Linked DNA regions of Homo sapiens. The protein of the gene in region 1 interacts with the protein of each later gene in a biochemical or structural test. Each region holds a gene or a part of one and is shown in the gene's direction. Other genes may lie near its edges.

What was found.
Region 2: the proteins of BACE1 (region 1) and NCSTN form a complex in vitro, tested with the Homo sapiens proteins (one study listed by BioGRID).
Region 3: of the proteins of BACE1 (region 1) and USP8, one has a biochemical effect on the other in vitro, tested with the Homo sapiens proteins (one study listed by BioGRID).

Annotation. Positions count from the first base shown.
Region 1 is NC_000011.10:117,311,592-117,322,198, reverse strand, and holds the start of BACE1 (beta-secretase 1 isoform A preproprotein), read left to right. Parts: upstream 1-5,942; 5' UTR 5,943-6,403; coding exon 6,404-6,664; intron 6,665-10,607. UniProt on the Homo sapiens protein: Responsible for the proteolytic processing of the amyloid precursor protein (APP).
Region 2 is NC_000001.11:160,342,835-160,353,399, forward strand, and holds the start of NCSTN (nicastrin isoform 1 precursor), read left to right. Parts: upstream 1-548; 5' UTR 549-562; coding exon 563-647; intron 648-1,641; exon of another isoform or gene 1,642-1,755; coding exon of another isoform or gene 1,756-1,780; intron 1,781-1,887; coding exon 1,888-1,992; intron 1,993-6,164; coding exon 6,165-6,288; intron 6,289-6,714; coding exon 6,715-6,836; intron 6,837-7,270; coding exon 7,271-7,416; intron 7,417-8,387; coding exon 8,388-8,538; intron 8,539-8,861; coding exon 8,862-8,971; intron 8,972-9,219; coding exon 9,220-9,372; intron 9,373-10,052; coding exon 10,053-10,157; intron 10,158-10,325; coding exon 10,326-10,403; intron 10,404-10,488; coding exon of another isoform or gene 10,489-10,497; exon of another isoform or gene 10,498-10,565. Other genes in the region: COPA (coatomer subunit alpha), read right to left, coding at 297-336. UniProt on the Homo sapiens protein: Essential subunit of the gamma-secretase complex, an endoprotease complex that catalyzes the intramembrane cleavage of integral membrane proteins such as Notch receptors and APP (amyloid-beta precursor protein).
Region 3 is NC_000015.10:50,474,545-50,485,109, forward strand, and holds part of USP8 (ubiquitin carboxyl-terminal hydrolase 8), read left to right. Parts: intron 1-2,304; coding exon 2,305-2,449; intron 2,450-2,731; coding exon 2,732-2,955; intron 2,956-6,936; coding exon 6,937-7,521; intron 7,522-9,730; coding exon 9,731-9,817; intron 9,818-10,565. UniProt on the Homo sapiens protein: Hydrolase that can remove conjugated ubiquitin from proteins and therefore plays an important regulatory role at the level of protein turnover by preventing degradation. Converts both 'Lys-48' an 'Lys-63'-linked ubiquitin chains.

The DNA of each region.
Region 1 (10,607 bases):
GGTTGTAGTGAGCCAAGATCACGCCACTGTACTCCAACCTGGGCAACAGAGCGAGACTCCACCTCAAAAATAAATAAATAAATAAAGTGGTGGTCATGCTAAATATCCTGATGTGATCATTATGCAACATATATATGTATCAAAATATCAAATTGTACTCCATAAACATGTACAATTAAATGTTAATCAAAAAACAGTAACAGCCGAGAGCAATGGCTCACATCTGTAATCCCAACACTTTGAGAGGCCGGGGCAGGAAGATCCTTTGAGGCCTGGAGTTCAAGACCAGCCTGGGCAATATAGTGAGACCCAATCTCTTAAAAAAAAACCCAAAAATTTAACCAGGCTTGATGGTGTGTACCTGTAGTCTCATCTACAGAGGCTGATGTGGAAGGGTCACTTGAGCACAGGAGGTCAAGGCTGTAGTGAGCCATGATCATGCCACTGCACTGCAGCCTGAGTGACAGAGCAAGACCCCATCTCTAAATACAAATAAATAAACAAGCATTTTAATTCTGGGAAAAAAATAACTTTTTATTCTCTTTTTTATACTGTTTATTTGGGCTATACAGAAAACTACTCACATGATAAGAAAGGAAAACACTTGATAATCCTACCAATTATTTAAGGATACAAAGATATAAAATGTTCCCTCTACACTTTCAATCCACTTTATTTGAAACTGCAAACCGCCCTCCCATCTCCTTTCTCTATTTTATTTTTCTCTATAGCACATATCACCATCCAAGATACTATAATTTTATTTCTTTACTGTCTGTCTTCCTGCATTAGAGTGTAAGCTCCATGAGGACAGGGATTTTACATATCATTGTATCCTCAGTGCCTAAAATAGTGCTTAGCGTGTAGTAGGCACTCAGTGTACATTTACTGAATGAATGAATGAGCAAACTAAGGAAGAAATTAAACCCTACACTTCAAAGGAAACCACTGTTGACACTGTGGGTGCTATCTTCCATATTTTTTTATGCTTATGCAGATGTAAATGTATATACCTACATATTTATGCATATATGCACAGCCCATTCTTTTTAATTTTTACAGAAATGAGATCATAATGTTATTGTTCTAACATGTGCTTTTTTTTTTTTTTTGATACGTAGTCTCACTCTGTCACCCAGGCTACAGTGCATTGGCATGATCTTGGCTCACTGCAACCTCCGCCTCCCGGGTTCAAACAATTCTCTGCCTCAGCCTCCCGAGTAACTGGGATTCCAGGCATCCGCCACCACGCCCAGCTAATTTTTGTATTTTTAGTAGAGACAGGGTTTCACCATCTTGGCCAGGTTGGCCCTGAACTCCTGATTCACGCGCCTTGGCCTCCCAAAGTGCTGGGATTCCAGGTGTGAGCCACCACGTCAGGCCCCTGACATGCTTTCTTTAACTTGTCATAAACAGGCCGGGCGCGGTGGCTCACACCTGTAATCCCAGCACTTTGGGAGGCCGAGGCAGGTGGATCACGAGGTCAGGAGTTCGAGACCAGTCTGGCCAACGTGGTGAAACCCCATCTCTACTAAAAACACAAAAATTAGCCAGGCTGGCCAACATGGCAAAACCCCATCTCTACTAAAAATACAAAAATTAGCCAGACATGGTGGCACACGCCTGTAATCCCAGCTACTCAGGAGGCTGAGGCAGAGAATTGCCCAACGTGGTGAAACCCCATCTCTACTAAAAACACAAAAATTAGCCAGGCTGGCCAACATGGCAAAACCCCATCTCTACTAAAAATACAAAAATTAGCCAGACATGGTGGCACACGCCTGTAATCCCAGCTACTCAGGAGGCTGAGGCAGAGAATTGCTTGAACCTGGGAGGTGGAGGTTTTAGTGAGCCAAGACTGTGCCACTGCACTCCAGCCTGGAAGGCCAGTTTATAAGAAGCTATCCCATTGTTTTTAATGGTTACTTAGGATTTCATTGAACAAATGTCTTGTTCCCTATTTAATTTTTTTTTTTTTTTTGAGACCGATTCTCACTGTCACCCGACTGGAGGGCAGTGGCGCAATCTCGGCTCACTGCAACCTCTATCTCCCAGGTTCAAGCGATTCTCCTGCCTCAACCTCCCAAGTAGCTGGGATTACAGGCATGTGCCATCACACCTAGCTAAATTTTTTTTTTTGAGACAGTCTTGCTCTGTCACCCAGGCTGGAGTGCAGTGGTGCAATCTCGGCTCACTGCAACCTCCACCTCCCGGGTTCAAGCGATTCTCCTGCCTCAGCCTCCCAAGTAGCTGTGATTATGGGCACCCACCACCATGCCTGGCTAATTTTTTTGTATTTTTAGTAGAGACAGGATTTCACCATGTTGGCCAGGCTGGTCTCAAACTCCTGACCTCAGGTGATCCACCCACCTCGGCCTCCCAAAGTGCTAGGATTACAGGCTTGATGATTATTTTTGGTTTTGCTTAAAGAGATGGGGTCTTGCTCTGTCTCCAGGCTGGTCTTGAACTCCTGGCCACAAGCGATCCTCCCACCTCAGACTCCCAAGTGGCTTGGATTACAGGCGTGAACTATCACACCCAGCTTCATTTGTTTTGAATCCAAGGTTTTGCCATAGTACACACTGCTGAAATATTGTTGTTTTTGTTGGAAAGGGTCCTAGAAATGCCATTGCCCAAAGAGTTTGCATTTTTAACATATTAATAGGCATTGCAAATTACTCTCCAAAAATGGAATAATTTACAGTCCAAACAATACCTTCACCAATACCAAATGTTACCAATCTGAGAGGAGACGAAAGAAAGAAAAAGGAACAAAGAATCTACTGTTTTACTTTGTGTTCTTTCAACTATTAACGAAGTTAAGCTTTTTTCAAGGTTTTTTATGTTTATCATCCATTTGAATTTCCTCTGTGAATTAACTGTTCACATTCTTTGTTCATTTTTCTTTTTCTTTTCTTTTTTGTGTTTTGTTGTTGTTTTTCCTCACTCTTTCCCCTTACCCTTTGTTCATTTTTCTATCAGGTTGTTTGGGATTTATATTGATTTGTAGAAGCTCTTTGCACATTATAAACATTAGCCCTTTGTCTCTATTGTGTGATAAATGTTGTTTCTTAATCTGTGACTGATCTTTTAACTTTGTAAATGTCAGTTTTCTCAGTAGTTGCAACAGTAATAATCCTAATAGCTGACCTTTATTGAGCACTTACAATATGCTGGACACCATTCTAAATGCTTTACATGGATTGTCTCATCGAATTCTTACCTTTTGAGGTTTGAACTATTAATATCATTATCTCCATTTTACAAATGATAAAATCAAGTCTCAAAAAGGGGCCAGGCAAGTTGGCTCACGCCTGTAATCTCATCACTTTGGGAGGCTGAGGCAGGCAGATAACTTGAGGTAAGGAGTTAGAGACCAGCCTGGCTAACATGGTGAATTCCCGTCTCCACTAAAAATACAAAAATTAGCTGGGCGTGCTGGCGCGTGCCCGTAGTCCCAGCTACTTGGGAGGCTGAGGCAGGAGAATCGCTTGAGGAGGCAGAGGTTTCAGTGAGCTGAGATCATGCCACTGCATTCCAGCCTGGGTGACAGAGGGAGACTCCGTCTCAAAAAAAAAAAAAATTAGCCAGGCATGGTGGTGTGCGCTTGTAATCCCAGCTACTCAGGAGGCTGAGGCACAAGAATCGCTTGAACCCAGGAGGAGGAGGTTGCAGTGAGCTGAGATGAAGCCACTGCACTCCAGCCTGGGTGATAAAGTGAGACTGTTTCAAAAAAAAAAAAAAGGACTCAAAAAGTAAGTAACCAGAGTGGGCTCTCCCAGTTACTAATTGAACCAGAATTAGAACACTGGTGGTATTGGAATACTTCTGATTCTACAGAAGTTTTAAATATTTAAGTCATCAAATCCATCCAGTTTTTGGGTTTGTTTACCTTCTAGGGTTTGTTAGGGAGGTCTTCTTCAATATAAGATCATGAAAATATTCTATTTTTCCTGTAGTTTTATTTTAATGTTAAATTCTTTAATCTATCTGGAGTTTATTTTCAGAGGAATGAAATTGGATTTGGTTTTTTTTCCTTCCAAATGGGCTGCCAGACGTCCCAACAACAGTTTTTGAATAATGCGTCCATTTTCCTCTAATACGAATGCCATCTCTATCATATCTACAATTCCCATAGATACATTTCTCTATTTTGATTTCGATTTTTTTAACTTGTGTCTAATCATCTTATTGATTAGGGTTTTCTATCCATATCATATAATCTGCAACTAATGATTCCTTTGCTTTCCAACATATATAACACTTTTTCCATTTTCTTGTCTTTTGAGTCAATCAGACCGGTCTGAACCGTGTAGGATAAGAGTAGAGATAATGATCGGCCGGGCGCGGTGGCTCACGCCTGTAATCCCAGCACTTTGGGAGGCCGAGGCGGGAGGATCACGAGGTCAGGAGATCGAGACCATCTTGGCTAACACGGTGAAACCCCGTCTCTACTAAAAATACAAAAAATTAGCGGGGCGTGGTTGCAGGCGCCTGTAGTCCCAGCTATTCGGGAGGCTGAGGCAGGAGAATAGCCTGAACCCGGGAGGCAGAGCTTGCAGTGAGCTGAGATCCCACCACTGCACTCCAGCCTGGGCGACAAAGCGAGACGCCTTCTCAAAAAAAAAAAAAAAAAGAGTAGAGATAATGATCTTTCCTTTCCAAAGCCTGCCTTTAATGGGAGTAACGTAGCCTGTTATTACTACATTTGTTGTTGTTGTCGTTATCTTGTTTAAAAAGTTTCCTGGCTGGGTACAGTGGTCCATGCCTATAATCCCAGCATTTTGGGAGGCCGACGTGGGCGGATCACTTGAGGCCAGGAGTTCGAGACCAGCCTGGCCAACATGGTGAAATCCCATCTCTACTAAAAATACAAAAATTAGCTGGGTATGGTGGCGCATGCTTGTAATCCCAGCTACTCAGAGGCTGAGGCATGAGAACTGCTTGAACCCGGGAGGCGGAGGTTGCAGACTTGAGACCATGCCACTGCACTCCAGCCTGGGTGACAGAGCAAGTCTCCTTTTCAAAAGAAAAATGAAGATTCCCTTTCATTTTTTAAAAAAATTAAATCAGAGTAACTGCTGAATTTTATCAATGGCTTTCCACATTTGATAAACAATATATTGTTAAAACCATACCGGCTTTTCTCCTTTAAGCTATTAGAACTCTAACGCTTTTGGTTCAAGGCTTTAAGCTCTTACCAGTTAATATAGAGATACTTTTCGGAGTGTTAACACTTTAAAGCTATCAACAGCCATTTCTCCTCAGTCTGGCTGATGGTGCAGAAAATCAGAGGAGCCATAAGGATTCAAGTAGAGCCTCAAGGGCACAAACAGGTTCAGATGGGAGAAGACCCACTGGCTCTTACCTGCCCGCAGATCGCAGGCGCAGGAGAAAATAAGACAACTGCACTTTCCCCTTTTGGACCCTGCTCCGCTGGTTTGCAGCCTGGAAAAACTCTTCCTCCCCTTTCATCCTGCTCCCTCAATCTCTGCTCGTGAAAATCCTACCCATTTTTAAACGCTCAAATTAAATACCACCTTCTCCCACTGAGTCTTCCCAGATCCCCTAGATGTCCCTCCAAATCCCTACTCCTTAATGCCACATCGTATAGTGTGAAACCCCACCGCGGCAGGAATCACTTAACTGTCCCGTGTAGAATCACCGTTTATTTCTCTCTGTATCTCCAGCGCCTGGCAGTGTGCCTGGCATACAGTGGGTGCTCCTTCCATGCTGAAAGAAAGACTGACAGACGGGAGGTGTGCCCCTCTCCATCCGTCTGGCCCTTCCCGCCAGGGCCTTGCAGGGCGGACTCCACCTCGGCAGAGGGCATCCCAGACCCCTCTCCAGCCCCGGAAGCCGGATTGCCTGCCATGGGAAGACTACACTTCCCAGCGATCCCAGGGAAAAGCGAAAACCTTTTGGCTTTGACAGCCGCCGCCACAAGTCTTTCCGCCTCCCCAGCCCGCCCGGGAGCTGCGAGCCGCGAGCTGGATTATGGTGGCCTGAGCAGCCAACGCAGCCGCAGGAGCCCGGAGCCCTTGCCCCTGCCCGCGCCGCCGCCCGCCGGGGGGACCAGGGAAGCCGCCACCGGCCCGCCATGCCCGCCCCTCCCAGCCCCGCCGGGAGCCCGCGCCCGCTGCCCAGGCTGGCCGCCGCCGTGCCGATGTAGCGGGCTCCGGATCCCAGCCTCTCCCCTGCTCCCGTGCTCTGCGGATCTCCCCTGACCGCTCTCCACAGCCCGGACCCGGGGGCTGGCCCAGGGCCCTGCAGGCCCTGGCGTCCTGATGCCCCCAAGCTCCCTCTCCTGAGAAGCCACCAGCACCACCCAGACTTGGGGGCAGGCGCCAGGGACGGACGTGGGCCAGTGCGAGCCCAGAGGGCCCGAAGGCCGGGGCCCACCATGGCCCAAGCCCTGCCCTGGCTCCTGCTGTGGATGGGCGCGGGAGTGCTGCCTGCCCACGGCACCCAGCACGGCATCCGGCTGCCCCTGCGCAGCGGCCTGGGGGGCGCCCCCCTGGGGCTGCGGCTGCCCCGGGAGACCGACGAAGAGCCCGAGGAGCCCGGCCGGAGGGGCAGCTTTGTGGAGATGGTGGACAACCTGAGGGGCAAGTCGGGGCAGGGCTACTACGTGGAGATGACCGTGGGCAGCCCCCCGCAGACGGTAAGGTGGTCAGGCCAGCCCTTAGCCCTCCGCCTGCATGAGCAGAGGGGAGACAGGATGGGGATGCCTCAAGCTAGCCCCTGCTCAAATGGGCTGGTGGGGACAGCAGGAGGGACCCCTCCCCAGCCATTCCCCGGGGGTCACGTGGTTGTTGGCAGAAGTGTTCCCAAGCTCCCCATTCCCTCCTCGTCTCCCCTGGCTGCCTAGTTCCCCTTGCTCCTCATCTGACACATACGCCGTCTGGAAGGATTTGAGGCAAGACAGACACATCAGCTGGGGACCCTGACCTGGAGGAAGGGTCCGCCACAGGGGCACTATAACAGGTGTCAGCCCCCTCTGACAGTGGCCCAGTCCGAGTCTCCCAAATCCCACCACTCTAGAGGTTGGCCACCCAACCTTGTCCCCTCCTCTGATTCCCACCATTGTTCCCAGTACCTCCAGGACCAAGGAATCCTGGCAGCAGTTGAATAAGCACCTTGCTCCCACCATCTGGGCTGCCACTGGTACGGCAAAGTGAGGTTGTCGAGGCCCCCCTGACTGCACTCCGCCCGGAAGCCCTGGACAGGCTCCTGCCGTCCCCTCCTCCTCCCCTTCTCCCTCTCGCGGTCTACACTCCGGCCCCTCCCCCACCCCACACCTCCCCAGGCCAGAGGGGAACTGAACTGAGCCTGGTGAAAGAACAAATGGTAGGAAAGGAGCCAGAGCTCCCTTTTAAGAGTGGGACTCCTTCCATGGCGGGGGAGAGGGGAGTTACAGAGAAAACACTGTTATGCCCTCCCCATCCTTCCTGACAATCTCCAAGGTACCTTCAAGGTGGCTGGTGGAGGTGGCACCCTCTGCACCTCTGTGGGTGAGCAGCCCTCCATGTGGGGTGCTGTGGCTGACCTCTGTGTGCATCTGCCGCCTCTGTGGGGCAGTCCGGGCCCGGGCAGCCCTGTGGTTCTGTGTATGCTGGTGCGTGTCACCTTGAATCTGATCCTGCACATCTGTGAGCCACCTCCGGATCTGTGTCTGGGAAGTCTGTCCTTGGGAGGGTCTGTGAAGGTGGGAGTGTGTTTGGGGTGGGCGGAGGGGACAGCCACACTTTCCTGAACTTCTCAGACAGCTGGATCTGGGAGAAACACAAACCCCCACCTCCCAATTACTTTACAGAAGCCAGCCTTCCTAGGTGCGTGCTCCCCAGCCCTACCTCTCAGCTAGTCGAAAGCCTGGTCTTCCCCACTTTCTCATCCTCTTTCCTGTGCACCATAACTTCCCCAGCAGTAGTCTCCAGTGGGAATTTGGGAGGGCAGGACAGAAGCCAAATCCAGGCCCTGAGCAAACAGAACGCTAGATGATATCGTCAGGGAGCAGCAGGTATGCAGAGACCTGGGACCTACTCCTGTTTCTGCGACTGACATGCTGTGCACACTGTGCATGGACCCCATGGCACGATGCAGGACGGGGCTGCAGAACCCACACAAGCTTTGAGGTCAGACAGTCCACGAATCCCAGCTCTACCACCCACAGCTTTTCCTCTTCTCAGCTGTGTGGCCTTGGGCAAATTGCATAACCTCTCTGAAACTACTGTCATATCTTTAAAATGAGTAGGAAATGAGACCTCCTTTGCAAGGTAATTGTGAGGATTAAGTTGTGAGGGTTAATTGTTCTAGGTGCTTTCACCCAGAACAATACACCAGCATATAAAACTGACCTCCAACAAATATGAAGTCACTTTATCCTTGTCTGGCCTGTTCTGCCTCTTCAATTCTATGCAATGAGGCATAAAAACTCGGATGTCCTGGGCCTCCACGTTTTACATGTATAAAACTGGGGTATCCTGTAATCCCAGCACTTTGGGGGGCCAAGGTGGGCAGATCACCTGAGGTCAGGAGTTCGAGACCAGCTTGGCTAACATAGCAAAACCCTGTTTCTACTAAAAATACAAAAATAATTCGCCGGGCCTGGTGGCATGCACCTGTAATCCCAGCTACTCAGGAGGCTGAGGCAGGAGAATCGCTTGAACCTGGGAGGCGGAGGTTGCAGTGAGACAAGATCGCACCATTGCCCTCCAGCCTGGGCAACAAGAGCAAAACTCTGTCTCAGAAAAAATAAAAACAAAAACAAAAACGGGGTATCCATTGCTGTACTTCCCTGATCCCCTGAAATAATGCATACATCCTGCAGCCCAGTACTTAGCAGAGAGTAATTGCTCAATAAATGTCAGTTCCTTCCTCGTTCCTTTCTAGAAGAGGAAAGTGGGCTTAAAGTTCAACACCAGTCCAGGAAGCTAGTGCCAGGGAGCCCACAACTAAAGCAACTGTGTGGCTTGCACTATGATTTCTAACTAAGCCTGCATCAGCCAGTCTCTGCTCTCTGGTGGCTTGGACTCTCTCCCCATCTGTCTGTAAGAAGGACGCCCTTTCTTCCTACCTGGCGCGGCTGTTGTAAGTGCCAAATGAGAACTTGGATGGCATTGTATTCTGAACAAGAAAAAGTAAAATTTGGGGAGCACTTTCTCTGTGCTAGGCAATTAATTGGTGGTGCCTGGGGGCTGATCCACAAAGAGACAAGAAGACATGTTTTCTGCCCACATAGAGTTACAGTGGAAGTGAAAGGGCGGAAGTGACGAGTACAAGGTCATCCATGCAGATATACTCAAAGCGAGGTCGGCAAACCCTCATTGGAGTCAGCTAAAAATGTAAATTCCCTGGCCCCATCCCTGACCTCTAGAGACAGGATCTCTGACAGTGGGGCCCCGTAGTTTGTGCCTCAAATTTGAGAACCATTTATGGCTGGACGCGGTGGCTCACGCCTGTAATCCCAACACTTTGGGAGGCTGAGGCCGGCGGATCACCTGAGGTCAGGAGTTCGCGACCAGCCTGGCCAACGTGGTGAAACCCCATCTCTACGAAAAATGCAAAAATTATCTGGGCATGGTGGCAGGCGCCTATAATCCCAGCTACTCGGGAGGCTGAGGTAGGAGAATTGCTTGAACCCAGGAGACAGAGGTTGCAGTGAGCCGAGATCACGCCATTGCACTCCAGCCTGGGTGACAGAGCGAGACTCCGTCTCAAAAAAAAAAAGAAAAGAGAATAATGTATTTATAGGAGTGCAGAGAGTGAGTGCCACAGGTGTTCAGAAAGTGATAAACTCATCCAGGAAAGCCGCACCAGGGACATGTGCTCTGAGCATGGTCTTGAAGGATGGACAGGAGTGGCAGGCTATTCCCAGGGGGCAGATGGCACCATACTATCCCACTGTACTGTAATTGCACGTTACACGTATGTCCATGTCTGCTCCTTCCCACCCTACCCCCTTAAAATTGGGAGAGTCCACAGTGAATGAGAGGATGAGTTATGGATGTTAGGGCTTAAGCATGGTTGTTTAGGAGACAATAGAGAGCCAGTCCTGTTAATATTACAGGTTTAGGCTAAGACCAGATAAGTTTGGGTAAATAAAATAGAGCCAAATAGCCATAAAGCTTAAATGTGAGACTATAAGGTTTGGACTTTGGCCTTCAGATATAAGGGAAAATCTGAATTTATTGGGGCAGGGGAATGACATGAAGAAAGCAATCTTTCAGGAAGAGACATCTGAATTTTAAAAAGAGTGGGGGCTGTGTGTGGTGGCTCACGCCTGTAATCCCAGCACTTTGGGAGGCCAAGGCAGGTGGATCACAAGGTCAGGAGTTCGAGACCAACCTGGCCAATATGGTGAAACCCCGTCTCTACTAAAAATACAAAAATTAGCTGGGTGTGGTGGCGCGTGCCTGTAGTTCCAGCTACTCGGGAGGCAGAGGCAGAAGAATCTCTTGAACCCGGGAGGCAGAGGTTGCAGTGAGCTGAGATTGCGCCACTGCACTCCAGCCTGGGTGACAGAGCAAGACTCCGTCTCAAAAAATAAATAAAAATAAAAAGAGTAGGACTGAAAGACACAGGCACAGGGGGCTGTCACAACAGTC
Region 2 (10,565 bases), on another chromosome or scaffold:
CACAAATCGGGAGCACAGCCAAGAGAGAAAGGGGGAAGAAAGAATAGGGAGGGGGTCTAAGGAATCCCCTGCAGTGTGGGAGCCACTTTATAGGTAAATCGAAGCCCAAGGACACACCAAAGAAGAGGGGACTGGAGAACCGCTAGCCAGGCCCAACCTCTCTCCCACCCTCCGTCTTCCTCCGGGTCCGTCTGGTGGGCCCATTTCGACCAACACCTCTACCCATTTTCTCTTCCCCGGTGTCAGCGCCGCTCCTGACATCCAACCTCCATGTTCCCCCTTTTATTCTCCACTACCTTTGACCCGCGCGCTCTTGGTCTCGAATTTGGTTAACATCTCTCAGGTCTCCGACTCCGATGTCTTAATCCGAGCCCCGACACACCCTGCTGCCCTTCGGACGCCTCCACGTCAGCGACCCTCTCCCGCGGTTTCCGGAAGCGCCTGGAAACACGAACTTCCGGTCTCTTAGGCTCCGGGCCACAGAGACGGTGTCAGTGGTAGCCTAGAGAGGCCGCTAACAGACAGGAGCCGAACGGGGGCTTCCGCTCAGCAGAGAGGCAAGATGGCTACGGCAGGGGGTGGCTCTGGGGCTGACCCGGGAAGTCGGGGTCTCCTTCGCCTTCTGTCTTTCTGCGTCCTACTAGCAGGTGAGGCCTCCCCGCCCGTGAGCTCCGTTCTCTAAGGGGAACTCTCGGATCGGCCCCGCCGCGACCGCCACTGTCTCCCTTCTGGTTCCTGCTGCCCCTCTGTCCCCCCACCCTGTAAATCCTCTTTCTTTTTCGTTCCCACGACAGAAGTTCCCCCTTTGCCTGGACCTGAAGGTCCCTTCTCCCCCGCAGCACGTCGTGTCGCTTCACTCCCTTCTCTAGGCCTCTTCCTGGACTTCGAGCCTGACCCTCTCCCACTTTGTCCAGATGTCTCGTTTTTCCCACAACCCCAGCCACCCACCCCACAGTCGAAAGGAACAGGTGTGAAAGTTAGCTTTCTTCCTCGCGTTTAGACTTTTTGAGACGAAAGCAATCTTGTTCTGTGGGTGCTGTGCGGCGCTTAAAAGGTGGATTTCTTATTTCTTCCTCTGTTGATTACATCCTAAGTCTGTGTCCCCCTGCCTTGCCTCAGGTTTTTTTTTTTTTTTTTTTTTTAATCAGTAAAGCAAGAATAAGGTAGGATATGGGTACTCTTAACTGTGAAGACCCTGAAGTAACAATTCAAGGAACTTTTGGCATTTATAATGTACTTAAGTGTTTGCTGATACGCGTTCATTTACTGATACATGGCTTTTTAGTTGGTCAAGCCCTAAAATGCAAATGCCTGTATATAACTATGACTGTGCCTTCCCCCAATTCACATTGTTTTTAAGGATCCTCAAAGGAGAAACTACAGCTGCCCCACACTGTGGGCACACAAATGACCTGCTGATGTTAAATTAACTGACCCGTGTATGTCATAAGGTTTCTCTCAATTCTGTTCACACTCTTGGAAAAATGCCTCAGAAAGTTTTCTTAGCCCAGCACCTGTGTATTAACCAATTAGTAATATACATACAGGATATACAAGCAGAAGTGTGATCACCTGTGCAACCAGAATCTGGCAAATCTAAGGTCAAACACCTTTCCTTTGACCAAGTTTTCTCTCTTTTAGTGTCACTGTCAATGGCGCTACATGGACTTTGTAATAACCCTTTGAGGCACATAGCTGGGTGCCATGTAGAACATGTATCTGTTACGATAAGTGTGTGCCCAAGAAATCAGAAGAATGGACTTTAATCTCATTTTAGAAAGTATGATATTAAATGATTTACCCAAGCCATACTTCAGGTTAATGACACGATAGAAGCTAGTACCTGTGTCTCTCAAATTTTTCTAACACTTTTTATCTTCCGATCAGGTTTGTGCAGGGGAAACTCAGTGGAGAGGAAGATATATATCCCCTTAAATAAAACAGCTCCCTGTGTTCGCCTGCTCAACGCCACTCATCAGATTGGCTGCCAGTGTGAGTTGAGATGGATTCATGTTTGTGGACATTGATATTTGTCTGTGCCCTAGATACTAAGTAACATCCATGTCCTGCTTAGGAGATTTGACACTTATATTGGACTGTATGTAGGCAGTTACAGATAACCGTCTGTCAAGCTAGGCAAGATAATTAATAAGAACTAACATTTAGTAAATGCTGCATACCAAGCTTTTTACATGTGCATCTCATACAACCCCAACCACAACCCCACAAAATAGGTCTTACTGTTATTGTCACTTTATAAATGATGAAACTAAAACTTAAAGAAGTTGAGTAACTTTCCCAAGATCATACTGGTAATAAGTGATGATGCCAGGATCTGGTGGCCCGAGCACTAAGCTGAGAGACCTTTTTTTTTTGACACGGAGTTTCACTCTTGTCCCCCAGGCTGGAGTGCAATGGCACGATCTCGGCTCACGGTGACCTCTGCCTTCTAGGTTCAAGTGATTCTCCTGCCTCAGCCTCTTGAGTAGCTGGGATTACATGCACCTGCCACCATGCCCAGCTAATTTTTGTATTTTTAGTAGAGATGGTGTTTCACCATGTTGGCCAGGCTGGTCTCGAACTCTTGACCTCAAGTGATCCACCCACCTTGGCCTCCCAAAATGCTGGGATTACAGGCGTGAGCCACCGCACCCAGCCGAGCCAGCACTCTTAACCACCCTATTATACTGTTTTTTAAGGAGAAAAAAGTCTCATATTCTATGGTGTCCAGTTATCACTTGCACTCTGAACTTTTTGGAACCAAAATGGGCTAAAGGCAATGAACTATCTGAAGAGAAGGCACTGAAAATGCCAAATAGGCTGGGCGCAGTGGCACATGCCTGTAATCCCAGCACTTCAGGAGGTCAAGGCGGGTGGATCACTTGAGGTCAGGAGTTTGAGACCAATCTGCCAGCATGGTGAAACCCCCCCATCTCTACTAAAAATACAAAAATTAGCCGGCTGGCTGCTATGGCATGCCTGTAGTCCTAGCTTCTCGGGAGGCGGAAGCAGAAGAATCCCTTGAGCCCAGGAGGCGGAGGTTGCAGTGAGCTGAGATTGTGCCACCATACTCCAGTATAGGTGACAGAGTGAGACACTGTCTGAAAAAAAAAAAAAAAAAAAAAAAGAAAATGCTGAATAATTGCAAGAGGAATTAGTGAAGCATTCTATTTATCCTTTTTTAAAACTTTTTTTCCTTAAATTCAACTGACAGGCCGTTTATTTTCACACTTTGTGTGTTCCAAAAGAAGGTTCCATGACACTGTGGCTTTAAAAACTATCAAAATCATAGGGCAGGAAAAGTAGTAATCTAAAGGCTAACCTGCTGTCTTCAGATTTTGTTTCCCATGGACAATAGCTCTGTCAGAATGTAGTTTTGCAGATAAGCAGGAAACTTGGGGTCTGATACTGGCTTCTTCATCATCAAATTGATCACCTCTGAATTTCAGTTTACCCCTGGAATAATGGTTGGAGTACTTGCATAAAGCTGAAAGTCAAATACCTCTTAATAGTTGTTTATTGATGACGCTAGGTAAATAGGGTGGTCTCAAAAGTGCTGTATAATTTCCTGAAGCCTTCTTCCCATTTGATAAGAGAAAACTGGGACACTGAGAAGTGAAGGACTTGTTCGTGGAAGCAGTTACTACTTTTTTAGCCATCTTTCCCTGAGCTATAGTATCTGTTAATTGTCCCATGTCCCTGCTATACAAAGCACTGGGAGTAGGTTGACTGGTTCCAAACAGCCCCAAATAAAGTTTTTGTTGTACTTAGTTTCTTTTTTTTTTTTTTGAGATGCAGTCTCGCCCTCTCGCCCAGGCTGGAGTGCAATGGCACAATCTCAGCTCACTGCAACTTCCTCCTCCCAGGTTAAAGCAATTCTCCTGTCTCAGCTTCTTGAATAGCTGGGATTACAGGCGCGTGCCACCGTGCCCAGCTAATTTTTTGTATCTTTAGTAGAGGCGGGGCTTCACCATGTTGGCCAGGCTGGTCTCGAACCCCTGACCTCGTGATCTGCCCGCCTTGGCCTCCCAAAGTGCTGGGATTACAGGCATGAGCCACCATGCCCAGCCCTCTGGACTTAGTTTCTGAACTGGTTTGTAGGTAGAAGAGAGCTAGGTCCAGGGTGGGCTGAGATCAGACTGCTGGTCTTGCTGGAACCTCACTATAAAGTACAGAAGGCCAGGACCCCAACCTCTTGTAACTAGGCTCTAAGAAAACTCCTTTGGGAATAAGTCATTCTACTCTATGTTCTTAAAACAGCTCTGTAGGAAGCAAAGCCTCTAGAGGTAAAGCCACGTGCCAGTACAGAGAAACAAGAGGGGGTAAGCGGGACTGTGGCCACTTCCTCATTAAGATCTTGGTTCCTTTTCAACCTACTTATTTCCAAATCTTACTTCGTCATATCTGTCTTTTCTGAGCAGGCTCCGCCCTTTTTAATTAGTGTAGCTAACATGATAAAACTAAGGAGAAAAAAGTGATACCCAGATTTGATTTCTGATTATAATACTCTGCTTCTCTTAGACGCTTTAAAGTTCTCAAAGGGGGCTTTAAATAGGTTTCTTTTCCCTCCCTCCCTCCTTCTATCCTTTCTTCCTTCTTTCGTCTGTCCCCACAGTATGAGATGAATAGAGGTAGAAAACCTCATTGAAGGCGCAGAGAAAATAAGCAAGTTACTTAAGACTACACCATTACTAGTTGGAACCCAGATTAGAATCCAGGTTTTTTTCAGTCCAGTATCATAGTTTGTCTTCCTGTCCTCGCTGGAGTTGAAGTTTTGGGGTGTGTGTGTGTGTGTGTCAGAGTCTCACTATGTCACCCAGGCTGGAGTGCTGTGGCACAATCTCAGCTCACTGCAGCCTCCGCCTCCCAGGTTCAAGCAATTCTCCTGCCTCAGCCTTCTGAGTAGCTAGCATTACAGGTGTGCACCATCACACTTGGCTAATTTTTGTATTTTTAGTAGAGATGGGGTTTCGCCATGTTGGCCAGGCTGGTCTCAAACTCCTGACCTCAAGTGATCCACCCACCCACTTCGGCCTCCCAAAGTACTGGGATTACAGGCATGAGCCACTGTGCCCGGCCGAAGTTATATATGTTTTAGTTGCCACACTATCTGTTCCTTTTCCCATGTTTTAAATGCTGTGGCAAGGGCCGGGCATGGTGGCTCACTCCTGTAACCCTAGCACTTTGGGAGGCTGAGTGGGCATTTAAAGTGATGCTGATATACAGCCAGGGCTGAGAACTACTGGTCTAAAATAATTGATGAATAACATATCCAATTTTCTGTAGGGAGAAGACTCACAGGGAGACCCTAGGATATCTCCACACAGATCACTGGGGACTTAAGGAGTATTACCTAATGCCTTGAATTATGTAGAATTCAAAGTATTCTGGACTCTGGGTCATCCATCCTCTAATACAGTGCTTCCCAATCTTTATCATGTCATGAGACACATAGAAAATGTTATTTGTATAGCATCCTGGCACATAGAGAAATGGGTGATATTTTCAGGGCATCCTGGGGTAAATGATAAGTAGGCTCCTGGCTGGAGGTGACTTTGGAAACCCTAGGTTTCCTGGAATGAGGAGAACCAATGAGAGCACATCTCTGATCCATTCGAGGCTTATCAATTGGGAAGCTCTGTTTTAGAAACCTCAGAGTTCTTGACTAACCTCATCTAAAACCGGCCAGAAGCAAGTAAAGTCATTCCCAAAAAGGGCAAAAGGAATGACGATCCAGGAAAGCTCCTGAGGCCAAGGGCATGTATGCATGTGTTTTTACAAAGGAAGATTCAAAGCTAAAACCCTGAGCTAGAGATTTAGTGGCATTTCCTAGAGAAAATATAGGTTTGAAAACTTTGGTGTCTATTGTTGTAGAATCTTATGTATATGGCTAAATAAGGTTGAGGGCAGAGGGCAAAAAAATGAAGTTCACAGAACCTTTCTGGCATATAATGAGTCCTCTTGTGCTCTTTTATATTCCATTCCCTCCTGATAACCTTCAGATGGAGCTGGGGCAACAGCTTTTCAGTTCAAATCTAGAGGTGCCTGTATTCACCCAAATATGTTGTGACATCTTTAGGGGATAAAAGATACGCAGAATCAGTGAGGCAAAGTCAGAATTGTTAACTATGGGAGCTTTAATTTGACTCATTCTGTCCTGGCAGCTTCAATTAGTGGAGACACAGGGGTTATCCACGTAGTAGAGAAAGAGGAGGACCTACAGTGGGTATTGACTGATGGCCCCAACCCCCCTTACATGGTTCTGCTGGAGAGCAAGCATTTTACCAGGTAAGAACTAGATGTATCTGCTGGGAAAACATCCATAGAGGGAAAGTTTCAGTGAACAGTCCTCACACTTATTAGTGAAAACTTCCCTTGGCTGCCCTGGTCTGGTCAGGGGAGAGGGCAGGGTGGTCCTCAGAAGGAAAGGTGTACCATCAAAAGAAATGATCTTGAGCTTAGGGCTAAATTTCACCTACCTGTCCCTGAGTAACCCTGGGCATCCCTCCCCTCCCTCCCTGGGGTCCTTACTCACTAAAGCTCTACTTTTTAGAGCAGATCATTGTCCAGACTCAGAATTTAGAGACTGAAAGGGAAGAAATAAGTCAACAGTTTGATTCCCCTAGTTCCCCATTTGTTTCCATCCTGCAGGCAGAATGTCAGGCTGTCTGATACCTTCCTGTGTTCCTTCATGGAATTCCTTTCCTATTCCAGGGATTTAATGGAGAAGCTGAAAGGGAGAACCAGCCGAATTGCTGGTCTTGCAGTGTCCTTGACCAAGCCCAGTCCTGCCTCAGGCTTCTCTCCTAGTGTACAGTGCCCAAATGATGGGTTTGGTAAGTGTCCCAAAGGATCAGGAGAGCCTACTGTCACCTAAGGCTCACTGTTGCTTCGGTCTTACGTCTTTGTGAGGGATGTATATGTGTTTGTGTCTGTGTGTAGTGTCAGTAACTGACTCCCAAACAGGGGGTAGTGTTTATTTGTCTTTGCTGCTCATCCCTTCCCTCTCCTGCTTCCCCTTCCTTTGCCTTACCTGGCATTATCTCTTTTTGTCACGTGTTCACATCCCTAATCTTACAGCCTAAGACTCCCTGATACCATTGTCTTTCTATTTTAGTGTGGATGGTAATAGACTTCATGCCTACTTCTTTGAGTCACCACCTCCTTTTGAACTCTTAGTCCCAACTGAAAGATTCTTCTGCCGTCACCTGGTTCCTAAGTACTTGGTGTCCCAGTAACCAGTCCCCCTATTCCCCATCCTTCCCTTCAGGTGTTTACTCCAATTCCTATGGGCCAGAGTTTGCTCACTGCAGAGAAATACAGTGGAATTCGCTGGGCAATGGTTTGGCTTATGAAGACTTTAGTTTCCCCATCTTTCTTCTTGAAGATGAAAATGAAACCAAAGTCATCAAGCAGGTAATGACACTGCCAGCTCCTAGCAATTCCAGTTAGAAAGAAGATTATTTTTCTAGCCAGGTGTGGTGGTGTGTGCACGTAGTCCCAGCCACCCGGGAGGCTGAGACAGGAGGATCACTTGAGGCCGGGAGGCAGAGGTTTCAGTGAGCTGAGATGGCACCATTGCACTCCAGCCTGGGTGACAGAGCAAGGCCCTGTGTCACAAAAAAAAAAAAAAAAAAAGGATTATTTTATAGGCTCTCCTATTTGGAGGGTGGCTCATTCTTCTGGTACACCTGCTGAAAGACGGTTGCTCCAAAAAGAACCAAGACGTTAGTTCTTCTCACATTCTTTCCCCACATTTTGCTCCTACCTGATATTACAGCATTAAAGCCTTTTAGACTAGAAGAAAATATAAAGAATATCTGAAAGAGTAATATGAAACAAGGTACACAGCCCAGGTTAAGAACCACTAGTATCGTTAAAAAAAAAAGCATTGGATTAGAGATTGAGAAATTCAATTTGGTAATTTCTGAGCTTCTTTTTAGCTCTAATATGCCTTAATTCTGGTCTAGTATTTCCATTTTGACTCATAGAGTAGTTAAGAGATTTGTCCAAAGTTGTATGGTGAGTTGATCTCCAAGCTGTGTCATATCTGATTTCCTATCTCTAGTTTGGTGCTCTTTGTATCAGACCACACTGAATCTTTTCAGTGGCTGAAGCTTCAAATTGGGCCAGGCCATCTGGAATGGGATAGTTTCATCTCCAGCTAAACCACTGAGTCTGCAACCCTTTGTAACTCTTGATGAGTTTTTTTCTTTGACCTTATAGATCCTATGGTGGTTCTAGGATAACTATAGCTCAGGGATAAATGTCTCCGAAAAGGGTGTGGCTCCATCCCAAAAGGATGGAACTGGGCCCTCCTCCTTCTGGGATGTAAGGGAGGGCCTCCACAAACTAGCTGTCTCAGTGGGGTCCATCTCCCCTTTCAGTGCTATCAAGATCACAACCTGAGTCAGAATGGCTCAGCACCAACCTTCCCACTATGTGCCATGCAGCTCTTTTCACACATGCATGCTGTCATCAGCACTGCCACCTGCATGCGGCGCAGCTCCATCCAAAGCACCTTCAGCATCAACCCAGGTAGGGCAGATCCGAACCATGAGGGTAATGGAATAAGGGGCAGAGGGAGAGTGGAACCAGGCCAGGGAATGTTAGAGAGACTGTAATAGGGAAGGAGTAGACACCATGAAGGAGCTCTGCATGGGAGAACTAGAAACAATTCTGAAAAATTTAGGCAGCTTGTTCCTAAAGTGGATAGTGGCAGAGAAGCCAACCTCGGACTGTTGGAAGTAGAGAAAACGACTTAGAGTCCGTGGGGCACTGGTCAGAGATTTCCAATGTTGCCTTTATAGCTACCTTCTCCTTTAGCCTTGTTGATCTCTCATTGTTTGTGTCCTGCTTAGAAATCGTCTGTGACCCCCTGTCTGATTACAATGTGTGGAGCATGCTAAAGCCTATAAATACAACTGGGACATTAAAGCCTGACGACAGGGTTGTGGTTGCTGCCACCCGGGTGAGTGTTGGCTTCTGATCAGGATGGGCAGGGCTGGCACAAAAAGAGCTGGTAGGCCCCGCTCTAGCATATCAGATTTCAAAGTTGCTAAATTGGGAAGCCTCAAATGGGGAGGAATCTGGGCTGTGGGACTCCTGGGTTGTCTCCATTGCCACAGGACAGGTATATTCTCTTGACTGGAGCAAGAAAGGAGGTTTGGGGCCAGTTTTAAAGTATATATCCCCTGACTTTTCTTCTGTTGTACCTAGCTGGATAGTCGTTCCTTTTTCTGGAATGTGGCCCCAGGGGCTGAAAGCGCAGTGGCTTCCTTTGTCACCCAGCTGGCTGCTGCTGAAGCTTTGCAAAAGGCACCTGATGTGACCACCCTGCCCCGCAATGTCATGTTTGTCTTCTTTCAAGGGGTAAGGGCTCTTTGGCTGGGGTGCAATGGCAGGGAAGAAAGAGGATAGTAAAGATGAGAGTGGCTACTGGTTGGAGAAGACCTCAGCACTTGACCTAAGTTGTTAACCAGCACAGAGCTTCTGGATGTGTCTACATGTGTCTCCCCTTTAGATTCCTCCATTTTAGGAAGCTTAGATTCCTTCTTTTTAGGAAGCTTTTACACCCTGAATTGGTATGTAACCAGCCCCCTCTTTCCCCCACTGATAAGATATATTGGAGGCGGCCTTTTACTTTTATTCTCTGGACTCCTTTACTGCTATCTCCATCCAGGAGCCGTTAGGCTCCTGACTCTCATCACTAGGACCACAGCAGAATAAGGGAACAGCATCTGTGGCTGAGTCACTGGAGGTGGGGGACCGTTAAGAATCAGACACATAATAGCTGATGTTCATCTTAGACCTTTACTAAGGCTACTTTCCCCATTTCTGGGCTTCAGAAGTCTTGTAATACATATGAGGGATAGTCACAGCTGGGAGGTGGGGCCAAGAGAAGCCGAAAGTCACATGACTGTAAGCTGACTAGCAGTTGAGGTGACCTGAGATAGTCGTCTTACCTACAGCTTTGATGATCTGGCCGCCTTCGAGGCTCTCCTAACCCTTTGGAATCTCTGTTCCCCCTCCCACCTACCTCCATCTCTCAGGAAACTTTTGACTACATTGGCAGCTCGAGGATGGTCTACGATATGGAGAAGGGCAAGTTTCCCGTGCAGTTAGAGAATGTTGACTCATTTGTGGAGCTGGGACAGGTATGTGGCATGTCCCCCAGCCCCTTCCTTTTTAATTAAATCTTCCTCCTTTGTTGTTCTGCGGTCTTAACTGCAGGAACCACCGCCTCTTCCCTTGACTTCTATCCCCTAGGCATGGCCCAGAACAGGAGACTGATTCTAAGTGTTGTTTCTTCATCCTCCCCCCAGGTGGCCTTAAGAACTTCATTAGAGCTTTGGATGCACACAGATCCTGTTTCTCAGAAAAATGAGTCTGTACGGAACCAGGTAACCTGAGCATCTCCCCTCATTTCCTATTCCTACAGCTCAGAATCCAGACCCCAACCCCTGCCCTGTTTCCACCAACCCCCAGGGCCTGTGAGACAGGGTAAGAGACAGGATTGGATTGGGTGTTGGCCAAAGGATGAACACCACAGCTGTTGTTGCTGC
Region 3 (10,565 bases), on another chromosome or scaffold:
AAGTTCAAACTAAGATATGTGAATGATTAGTGTATGATAAAGGTGACATAAATCAATGAAGAAAAGATGGATTGAAATGAATGGTTTGGGGACAACTGCCCAGCCAGTAAATAAAAGAGAATGGATCCCTACCTTATTTCTTAGACCAAGCTACATCTCAAATGAATAGACGATATAAATGTATAGATTGAAACAGCGAACTATTAGGAGAAAGCATTGGTATTTTTTAGTACCTTGATGTCAAATCAAGATGTCATAAAGGAAAATGAAGACTGTGTTTATGGCTGGCCGCGGTGGCTCACACCTGTGATCCCAGCACTTTGGGAGGCTGAGGCAGGTGGATCACTTGAGGTCAGAAGTTGGAGACCAGCCTGGCCAACATGGCGAAACCCCATCTCTACTAAAATTACAAAAATTTGCCGGGCATGATGGCGGGCGCCTGTGATCCCAGGTACTGAGGAGGCTGAGGCAGGAGAATTGCTGGAACCCAGTGGGCAGAGGTTGCAATGAGCCGAGATCGCACCACTTCACTCCAGCCTGGGCAAAAGAACAAAAGTCCATCTCAAAAAGAAAAGACATTTAACTATGTTTAAAAAACAAAAACATAAAGTAAAAATCAGGAAAAATGTTTGCAATATATATGACAAAGACCTGTTTTCCCTAATATTCAGAGTACATTCACTGTTTACTAAAAAAATTGCAAATAACTATAGAAAAAGGGGCAAAGGATACAATTATTAAATAGTTAAGTCATAGAACAATATAAATCCATAGTAAATAAATGAAAAAATGTCCAACTTCACCAATAAAGAAATGCTTATTAAAACAAGATACCATTTTATGTTCATCAGTTTTGTAAAAATTATAAAGATGTATAATGGGCATTCTCATATCCTGTTGGTTAAGTGTATAAATTGGTATAGCCTTTCTGAAGGGCAACTGGGCATCATATTAAACCAGCAATTCTACTCCTAGGTAATTATCCTAAAGAAATACATATATATACATGTATATATACACACACATATATGTACACACACACATATATATATATTTATTTACTTATTTATTTTTCGAGATGAAGTCTCACTCTTATCCCCCAGGCTGGAGTGCAGTGGCGCTATCTTGGCTCACTGCAACCTCCGCCTCTCGGGTTCAAGCGATTCTCTTGCCTCAGCCTCCCAAGTAGCTGGGATTATAGGCGCCTGCCACCACGCCTGGCTAATTTTTGTATGTTTAGTAGAGACGGGGTTTCACCATGTTGGTCAGGCTGGTCTCGAACTCCTGACCTCAGGTGATCCTCCCGCCTCGGCCTTCCAAAGTGCTGGGATTACAGGCATGAGCCACCGTGCCCGACCAATATATTTATATATATTTTTAAGTGATCATTTCTAAGATTAGCAATATATTGAAAACCTTAAAATGTTCGTGTACCTTAGCTTAAGCAACTCCCTTTCTGGGAGTTTTCCTTAAGGAGGTGACTAGGTATGTGCATGTATAAGGATCTTTTGTGTTTATTTCAGCATTGCTTATAATTAAATGGGGAAAAAACCCAAATGTTCAAACGATTGACTCAGTTTTGGGGTCTGTGTATAAAGTAGAATAGGCCATGTGCAGCGGCTCACGCCTATAAATCCCAGCACTTTGGGCTGAGCCAGGTCGATCACTTAAGCCCAGGAGTTCGAGACCAGCCTGGGCAACATGGCGAAACCCCAGCTCACGAAAAGTACAAAAATTAGCTGGCCGTGTTGGCGCGTGCTTGTAAGTCCCAGCTACTGGGAAGGCTGAGGTGGGAGGATCAATAGAGCCCAAGAGGTCAAGGCTGCAGTGAGTCGTGATTATGCCGTTGCATTCCAACTTGGGTGATAGAGTGAGACCTTGTCAATCAGTCAACCAGTAGTCGAATATTACCTAGCATTGCAAATGATGATATAGCTCTATAGTGATGAAAGATGTTCATAGAAAAGCAACATCATAAAGGTTTTATTGAAAACTCTCTATAAGAGTAAACTCCAGAATGTAAAGTGGTATTGGGGTGGTGAGGTTATGGGTCATTTTTGTTTTATATTTAGTAATTTATTTTCTAATTTTTCTTCTAAGATCATTGATTATTTGTATGGTTTTTAAAACCTCACCTATATAACCATTTCATTTAATGTTGAATTTTGAATTCAGTTCTCATTTTGTCATTATTTAGAAGATAAATTTTGTCCTTAAGGGAACAACTTTAAAATTTAGATTTGTTGTGTTTTTAGCTGTTGAAAGATTGCTGCCCTATTTAAAATATGATTTCCTTATTTATAGTGGGAAAGTAAAACTGTCCTGCGCAATGAGCCTTTGGTTTTAGAGGGAGGCTATGAAAACTGGCTCCTTTGTTATCCCCAGTATACAACAAATGCTAAGGTCACTCCACCCCCACGACGCCAGAATGAAGAGGTGTCTATCTCATGTATGTATGTGAAAATTTTTGTTTAAAATTGCTTTGGTAAAATATGGTTTAAAATTGTTTTCCCGGTAACATTCTTGGTTGTGTGTGTATTTGTCCTATTAGAGAGCAGTTTGTTTTCAGGCATAAAAATATAAGCCTGGAAGTTCACATTTTCTTTAAGACTGTTGTAATTGTTTTTTCACTTAGTTTACATTTAATTACTGCATTAACACGCATGAGAAATGTAAGTACTGTGTATGGGGTTTGCTATTCTAAAAAACATTTTTATTTTTGGAATTTTAGTGGATTTTACTTATCCCTCATTGGAAGAATCAATTCCTTCTAAACCTGCTGCCCAGACGCCACCTGCATCTATAGAAGTAGATGAAAATATAGAATTGATAAGTGGTCAAAATGAGAGAATGGGACCACTGAATATATCAACTCCAGTTGAACCAGTTGCTGCTTCTAAATCTGATGTTTCACCCATAATTCAGCCAGTGCCTAGTATAAAGAATGTTCCACAGGTATGTTCTTGATTTTAACATTATTCTCGCTTTTGTTTTAATATTAAATATATAGTATAGCTGGGCACAGTGCCTCACGCCTGTAATCCCAGCACTTTGGGAGGCTGAGAGGGGCAGATCACCTGAGGTCAGGAGTTTGAGACCAACCTGGCCAACATGGTGAAACCCCCCTCTCTACTAATAATACAAAAATTAGCTGGGCATGGTGGTGGGTGCCTATAAATCCAGCTGTTTGGGAGGCTGAGGCATGAGAATTGTCTGAACCCAGGAAGCGGAGGTTGCAGTGAGTCGAGATTGCACCACTGCACCCCAGCCTGGGTGACAGCAAGACTCTGTCTCAAAAAAAAAAAAAAGAATTAAATACATAGTATAGAAACGAAGTTTAATATATAACCTTTAACATCTTAGAAAAAAGTATCGATGAGAACAGTCTGTATGTTTTGATAAATTTTTTGTTTAAAAATTTTTCATCATAATTCAGCATTACCGCCACGCCTATATTAGAGTAGATAATTAAGGGGTTTCCAAGCCAGTTGGCGATCCATTTGCTACAAACAATGCCAATGAAAGATTGCATTATCACAGTGAATTAGAATAGCCCTTTTGGGATTTTTTGTATTATAATTTGACCCATATTATTTTCATAAATAGCTTGGCTTACATATGATAGGTATGTGATGTCAGTATTTTGGTTTTAAAACAGTGCTTTAGTTTCATTTCCTTAGAATTTGACACGCAAATAACAGGCATGTTTAACAATAATCATGTAAAAGTTTTTAAATAACCAAGACATTACAAATAAAAAAATTTTAGTTTTTATATCCTTCATTTGGCTTTATTTAAAGAAAGGTTAACTAATGTTCCCCCTCCATGCATTTCCCAATAACATTTTTTAGCATTCATTTTTAATTTTTTCCCCAGATATATTTAAAACAGTATTTCACATTTAAAGTGGATGACGTTTGATTTGTGGAGCAGGTATTGAATAGAAAATCTGGTAATTTTTTGTTATAAACTGAAGTGGTTCATTTCTTCATTTTTTTAAGGTCTTTTAGTATTGCAGAATAAATTGCAGACTAAATAGATGTGATTAAACAACTTTTCTTAAAGGGTGAATTTAGGAAAGTCTAAAAAGAGCTTCTCTATGTTATTGCATTTCCTTTCAACTTAATCTATTTAAACGCTAATCCTTTTGTGTCCCAACATAACTTTATGAGATACGTACAATTTTCAGACATATTTTGAAGATCTTCTATATAAAAAACAGCATGAGGGCTGGGTGCCATGGCTCGTGCCTGTAATCCCAACACTTTAGGAGGCGGAGGCAGGTGGGTCACCTGAGGTCAGGAGTTCCAGACCAGCCTGGTCAACATGGTGAAACCCCATCTCTACTGAAAATACCAAAATTAGCCAGGCGTGGTGGTGCGTGCCTGCAGTCCCAGCTACTCAGGAGGCTGAGGCAGGAGAATCACATGAACCCAGGAAGCAGAGTTGTAGTGAGCCGAGATCAGGCCACTGCACTCCAGCCTGGGTGAGAGTGAGACTCTGTCTCAAAAAAAAATAAAAATAAAAATAAGACAGCATGAAAGTTTGTATATACAAGAGATGGGTTCTTCTGATGTTTGGAAGGAGAGATCTGTATAAAATCAGCCACAGCATAAGGCAGAATATCATAATTGCTCTACAAGGCACTGGAGCACAGAGCAAGGAGAATATTCTAGCTGAGAAGATCAAGGACGTCTTCATGGAGGAGACAGTATTTTATCTGGGCTTTAAGAGTAGGATTGGAGGATAGAAGAAACAAGTAGAAAATTCTATGACCAAAGGCATAGGGCATGCTCTGGGGCCAGTGAACAGTTTTGGCATATGTGGGCGCTAGTCTCTGTTGGAGAGAGGAAGTTATGATAGTAGATAAGATTAGAAGGATGGACAAGAGTCATCAAGAGAGACTTGGATCAAATTTGAATTTTGTCCTGTAGGCACAAGGAACCATTAAAGAATTTTAAACTTGAGAGTAACATGATCATAACTATACTTTTAAAATTAGGGAAAAATAGATCAAGCCACCAAAATGTAAATGGAAACAACATTTATTTTTGTTTCTGTTCCACCTCTTATTGTTAACCTCATCCCCATAGTGGTTCTTCCTACTTTATTCTCAAATACATGCAAAAAAAAAGACAAAGGATTTTTTTTAAGAGGCAGAAAGAGAAGTGAACAGGAAAAAAATTATTTTTTCTACACTAACCTCGTTTTCTTTTTCTTTTCTTTTTTTTTTGAAAACGGTCTCACTCTCTCACCCAGGCTGGAGTGCAGTGGCGTGATCACAGCTCACTGCAGCCTCGACTTCCTGGGTTCAAGCAATCCTCCCACCTCAGCCTCCTGAGTAGCTGGGATTATAGGCACATGCCACCACGCCCAGCTAATTTTTGTATTTTTTTTGTAGAGATGGGGTTTTGCCATGTTGCCCAGGCTGGTCTCGAACTCCTGGCCTCAAGTGATCTATCCGGCTCGGCCTCCCAAAGTGCTGGTATTACAGGCGTGAGTCACTGCGCCTGGCAACTTCTTTTATTTTCTAGTAGAAAAACATAAATTCGTTTTGTAAGAACACTATGTAGATTGTTATTGGCACATGTTCTTATAAGTTTTTATTTTTCTTTCAGTACACAGTATTCTCAAGAAATGATGTTAGGGTCACTTCTCTAGTGTTAACATGCTGTTAAATTGAGGTAATAAACATTTAACTCATTAAATCAGGAACTTAGGTAGTTTATTACACAACCTGAAGGAAACTAGTTAGTATTTTACCTCATGTAAAAGTTTTTAGGGAAGATTGCATTTGTTCCCTCAGTAACATAGTTACTAACTGTGCCAGGCACAGTCTTTATCCTTTTAGAGCTTATATTCTAGGAGGGAAGAAAAATTTTAAATAAGTAATTATAGTTATTTGATCAGAATTCCGGTAGAGAAGAATAAAGTATTATAAGAGCATGTATCAGGGGACTTGGCTAGTTCTAGGAACCAGGGAAGTCTTTTCAGAGGGAGAGATGTGTAAGCCAAGACCTAATGTGGGCATTATCTAGATGAACAGCTGATAGACCTAAGTTGGGAAGGAGCATGGCATCTTGGAATAATTTTTTTTTTAAGGCAAGTATAGCTGGTATACACAGCCATATGACTGGAGAGGTAGGCAGATGTAAGACCATACAGGGCATTACAGACTATGGTAAAGATTTTAGGTGTACTGAGAGCATAGTGGGTAGCAAATCAAATTTGTTTTAAAATGAGTCCTCTGGCTATAATGTGGAGAAACAGATTGGGGGGCGGGGGCAAGAGAAGAGATGGGCAACTAGTTGAAAGCTATGCTGTAGTCCTGGTGAGAGAGGAGGTTGACATGGTCTTAGCCTGTGGTAGAAGAGATGGAGGGACAGATATAGGAGGAAAATTAACAGCGTGCAGAAGGATATGGGAAGAACATATCATGGGACTCAGGTTTTTGATTTGTGCAACTATTGGGAGAGTGAGAGTGGTTACATCCATGAGATTAGGACCATGTTTGTCGGGGTGGGGGGAATCGTGAATCCGTTTTGGCTGTATGGGGTTTGAGATACATGTGTTGACACTCAAATGGAAATATTGGGTAGGCATTTGGATACCTGGAAGTGGAACTTAAGTCTAAGTATGCCCAGGTCTAGGTTTTATGTTTTAGAATAAAGACATTTTTAACTCTTTTGTATACAAAACACTCAGGAAGAATTGAAAGTGTTGAATCAAGAGGATGTAAGTTCCAGTGATGTTTGAATATCTACCATTCAAGTTCTGTTTTATGAGAAATCTTGACACTGAGTAATTAACAAATAGATGTGCTGATAGATGTTGTCTCCACAAAGTGACACTTCTTTTATCACAACTTGATCTCAAGAACTGAGGTTATTTCCTGATTTTTGACAAAAATGTTTTGCTCTGGTTTTGTTGCTCTAGATTGATCGTACTAAAAAACCAGCAGTCAAATTGCCTGAAGAGCATAGAATAAAATCTGAAAGTACAAACCATGAGCAACAATCTCCTCAGAGTGGAAAAGTTATTCCTGATCGTTCCACCAAGCCAGTAGTTTTTTCTCCAACTCTCATGTTAACAGATGAAGAAAAGGCTCGTATTCATGCAGAAACTGCTCTTCTAATGGAAAAAAACAAACAAGAAAAAGAACTTCGGGAAAGGCAGCAAGAGGAACAGAAAGAGAAACTGAGGAAGGAAGAACAAGAACAAAAAGCCAAAAAGAAACAAGAAGCTGAAGAAAATGAAATTACAGAGAAGCAACAAAAAGCAAAAGAAGAAATGGAGAAGAAAGAAAGTGAACAGGCCAAGAAAGAAGATAAAGAAACCTCAGCAAAGAGGGGCAAAGAAATAACAGGAGTAAAAAGACAAAGTAAAAGTGAACATGAAACTTCTGATGCCAAGAAATCTGTAGAAGATAGGGGGAAAAGGTGTCCAACCCCAGAAATACAGAAAAAGTCAACAGGAGATGTGCCCCATACATCTGTGACAGGGGATTCAGGTTCAGGCAAGGTAAGCAGAAACAGTACAAATTGCCAACGAAGTGAAAGAAAATGTATATGAAAATGTGAAAACACCAGTGGCATTCCATAAAAGGGCAGGCATTTCAAATAGTCTTTTCAGGGGTGATAGAATGTACTGATCTATCCACATTTGCTCATCTATTCTCCTTTGAGGCCAGTGCCATACATTTATGAAATGATTGGTTGGGAATGAAATTGCTTTTTGTATATTACATCTATAAAATGCAATATATTTCAAATAATTGAGATAAATAGCTACATTCTTCATTTTTATGTTTGATGTATGATCATGGGAAGACTAGAGTGAAATATAATCTCCTTCTCAGTATGGGGAAACTAGATGCTAATATTTGTATGATAGAATTTATATCTGTTTAGAATATATCCAAAATCAGTGACATCTAAATGGCCTAACATTTATCTTTGCATATAGTGATTTTTTGGTCAGATCGGTGTCATTTTGTTTCTTGCTTTATCTATTTAAATAATATTGGCAAATAACCCAATTAATTTTGCCCTTGGCTACACACCCAAAATTGATAGCCGTAATTTTAGGGGACTTTTTTTGTTATTCTTTTTCAATCTCTAATAATGCTATGCTTTTCTTTTTTTCTTCATTATGTCATTAACAATGCCTTTTCCTTTTGAACACCAAGTATATGTTTATAATACCAAGAACAGTTATGGTCCTTTTTACATATGTATAAATGGAAAAAACATTTTTAGTAGTGTGGAAATGACTTCTAATGGAAGGCGGGATACCATCTTTACAGAATGTCAATTTCTATACTTCTCAAACACAATTCAGGCATGTTACCAAAATTAATTCATAGTCAAGCTGCTCTTATCCAGGGAACACTTATCTGGTAACCTCTGCTATTAAAAAAGATAGCTTCCATCCAAAAACCTTCTAAACACCCCAAATTGGGGATATGAAGCCCATGTACTAAAACTCTCTAATTTTATTCACAGGAGGAGCAAAACATGTGCACTCCAAGATACAATTTAAGTATTATTCATTGAGTAGCTACTATATGCCAAGTATTTTCACTGCATTGTCTTATTTACCCCTAATGATAACCCCATAAGGTATTTAATTTACAAGTGAAACTGAAGTTTAGAGGTTAAGTATTTGCCTAGGATCACATAGACAGTGAGATTCCAAAGCCACTTCTTTTCCATCTTGCTATACTAGAGGCATGCAGTCTTTAGAACTTAAATCATTCATATTTGTGGAGTCATTTAGTATATAGGTGCCAAATATTCCTACACATCTAAGATTGCATTCTTTGTGTGCTCCTTTTAAAAGTAGGAGAAATATGTAATTTATTCTAGAATAAATTTTGTTAAAATTATCACTAATTTTAAAAAGTTTTTAGTAGAGTTATTTTAAAATAAGATATAAAACAAAAATGAGTTTTTAAAAAGAATCTACGGGCCGGGCGCGTTGGCCCACGCCTATAATCCCAGCACTTTGGGAGGCCTAGACGAGCGGATCACTTGGTCAGGAGATCAAGATGATCCTGGCTAACACGGTAAAACCCTGTCTCCACTAAAAATATAAAAAATTAGCCAGGTGTGGTGGCGGGCGCCTGTAGTCCCAGCTGCTTGGGAGGCTGAAGCAGGAGAATCACTTGAACCCATGAGGCAGAGGTTGCAGTGAGCCAAGATCGTGCCACTGCACTCCAGCCTGGGTGACAGAGCGAGACTCGGTCTCCAAAAAAAAAAAAAGAATCTGTGATGTTATAAGAAGATATGAATATAGATTTTTGCATTTTTTACTATTGGTCTGTATCTTAATTTCTTCTTTCTCTTGAATACTTCAAATTTTTTGAAGCACAACTCCTTTCAAGATAACCAAAATCGTAATAGTATTTAAATAAAAGAATAATGTTCAAATTAGGTCATGGTGAATATACATTAATGATCAGCATTTTATACTTGGCCATGTAGTGTGAACCAGTGCTTCACAGTCCACTTTGATTTTCATCTTTTTTTTTTCTTCACTGATTCATCAGAGTTCTTTAGTTTTTTAAGTATTTTGAATGTGACAGTAAAATATAATAAAATTTTCAGAGGCCTTTTTTTTCTCCTTTTACATTTTCATTCTCATAGATTCGGTTGTGTTAGCTAGTAGCTTTATGTTGGGAGGAGAATTAAAGTTTTCTTTCACTTCTGTAATTTTAATAATTTTACAGCCATTTAAGATTAAAGGACAACCAGAAAGTGGAATTCTAAGGACAGGAACTTTTAGAGAGGATACAGACGATACCGAAAGAAATAAAGTAAGTAGTTTATTGCAGGAAAAAACTGGAAAAAAAAGCCAAACATGGATTATAACTATGTGATTATCTTACCACACTGCTATCTTTTATCATGAGATCTACAGTGTAAGGGGATCGTTGCCATCTTTGGTAGCTGGTGTTTTGCTTGTTTTTGCATGATCAATCCATTTATATGCTAAAGGAAATAGTTTGTCTTCCTGTTTAAAGTGTGACAGCGTATTCTATTTATTTTATGAAAGTAAAAAATGTTTAGGCCTTACCATATGATCCAGCAATTCTACTTCAGGGTATATACCCAAAAGAATTGCAAACAAGAAGTATTTGTACACCCATGTTCTTAGAGTATTATTCATAATAGCCAAAAAATGGAAGCAACCCAAATGTCCATCAGCAGGTGAATGCATAAACAAATATGGTATGTACATGTAATGGAATATTATTCAGCCTTAAAAAGGAAAGAAATTCTGACACGTTACAACATGGATGAATCTTGAGGTCATTTGCTAAGTGAAATAAGCCAGTTTCAGGATAAATACTGAATGATTCCATTTCTATGAGGTTTGTAAAGTAGGCAAATGTATAGAGACAGAAAGTAGAATGGTGGTTGTCAGAGCTGGAGAAAGGGGAAATGGGGAGTTATTGTTCAGTAGGTACAGAGTTTCAGTTTTACAAGATGAAAAGAGTTCTGGAGATTGTTGGCACAGCAATATACTTAGTATCACTAACCAGTGCACCTAAAAATGGTTAA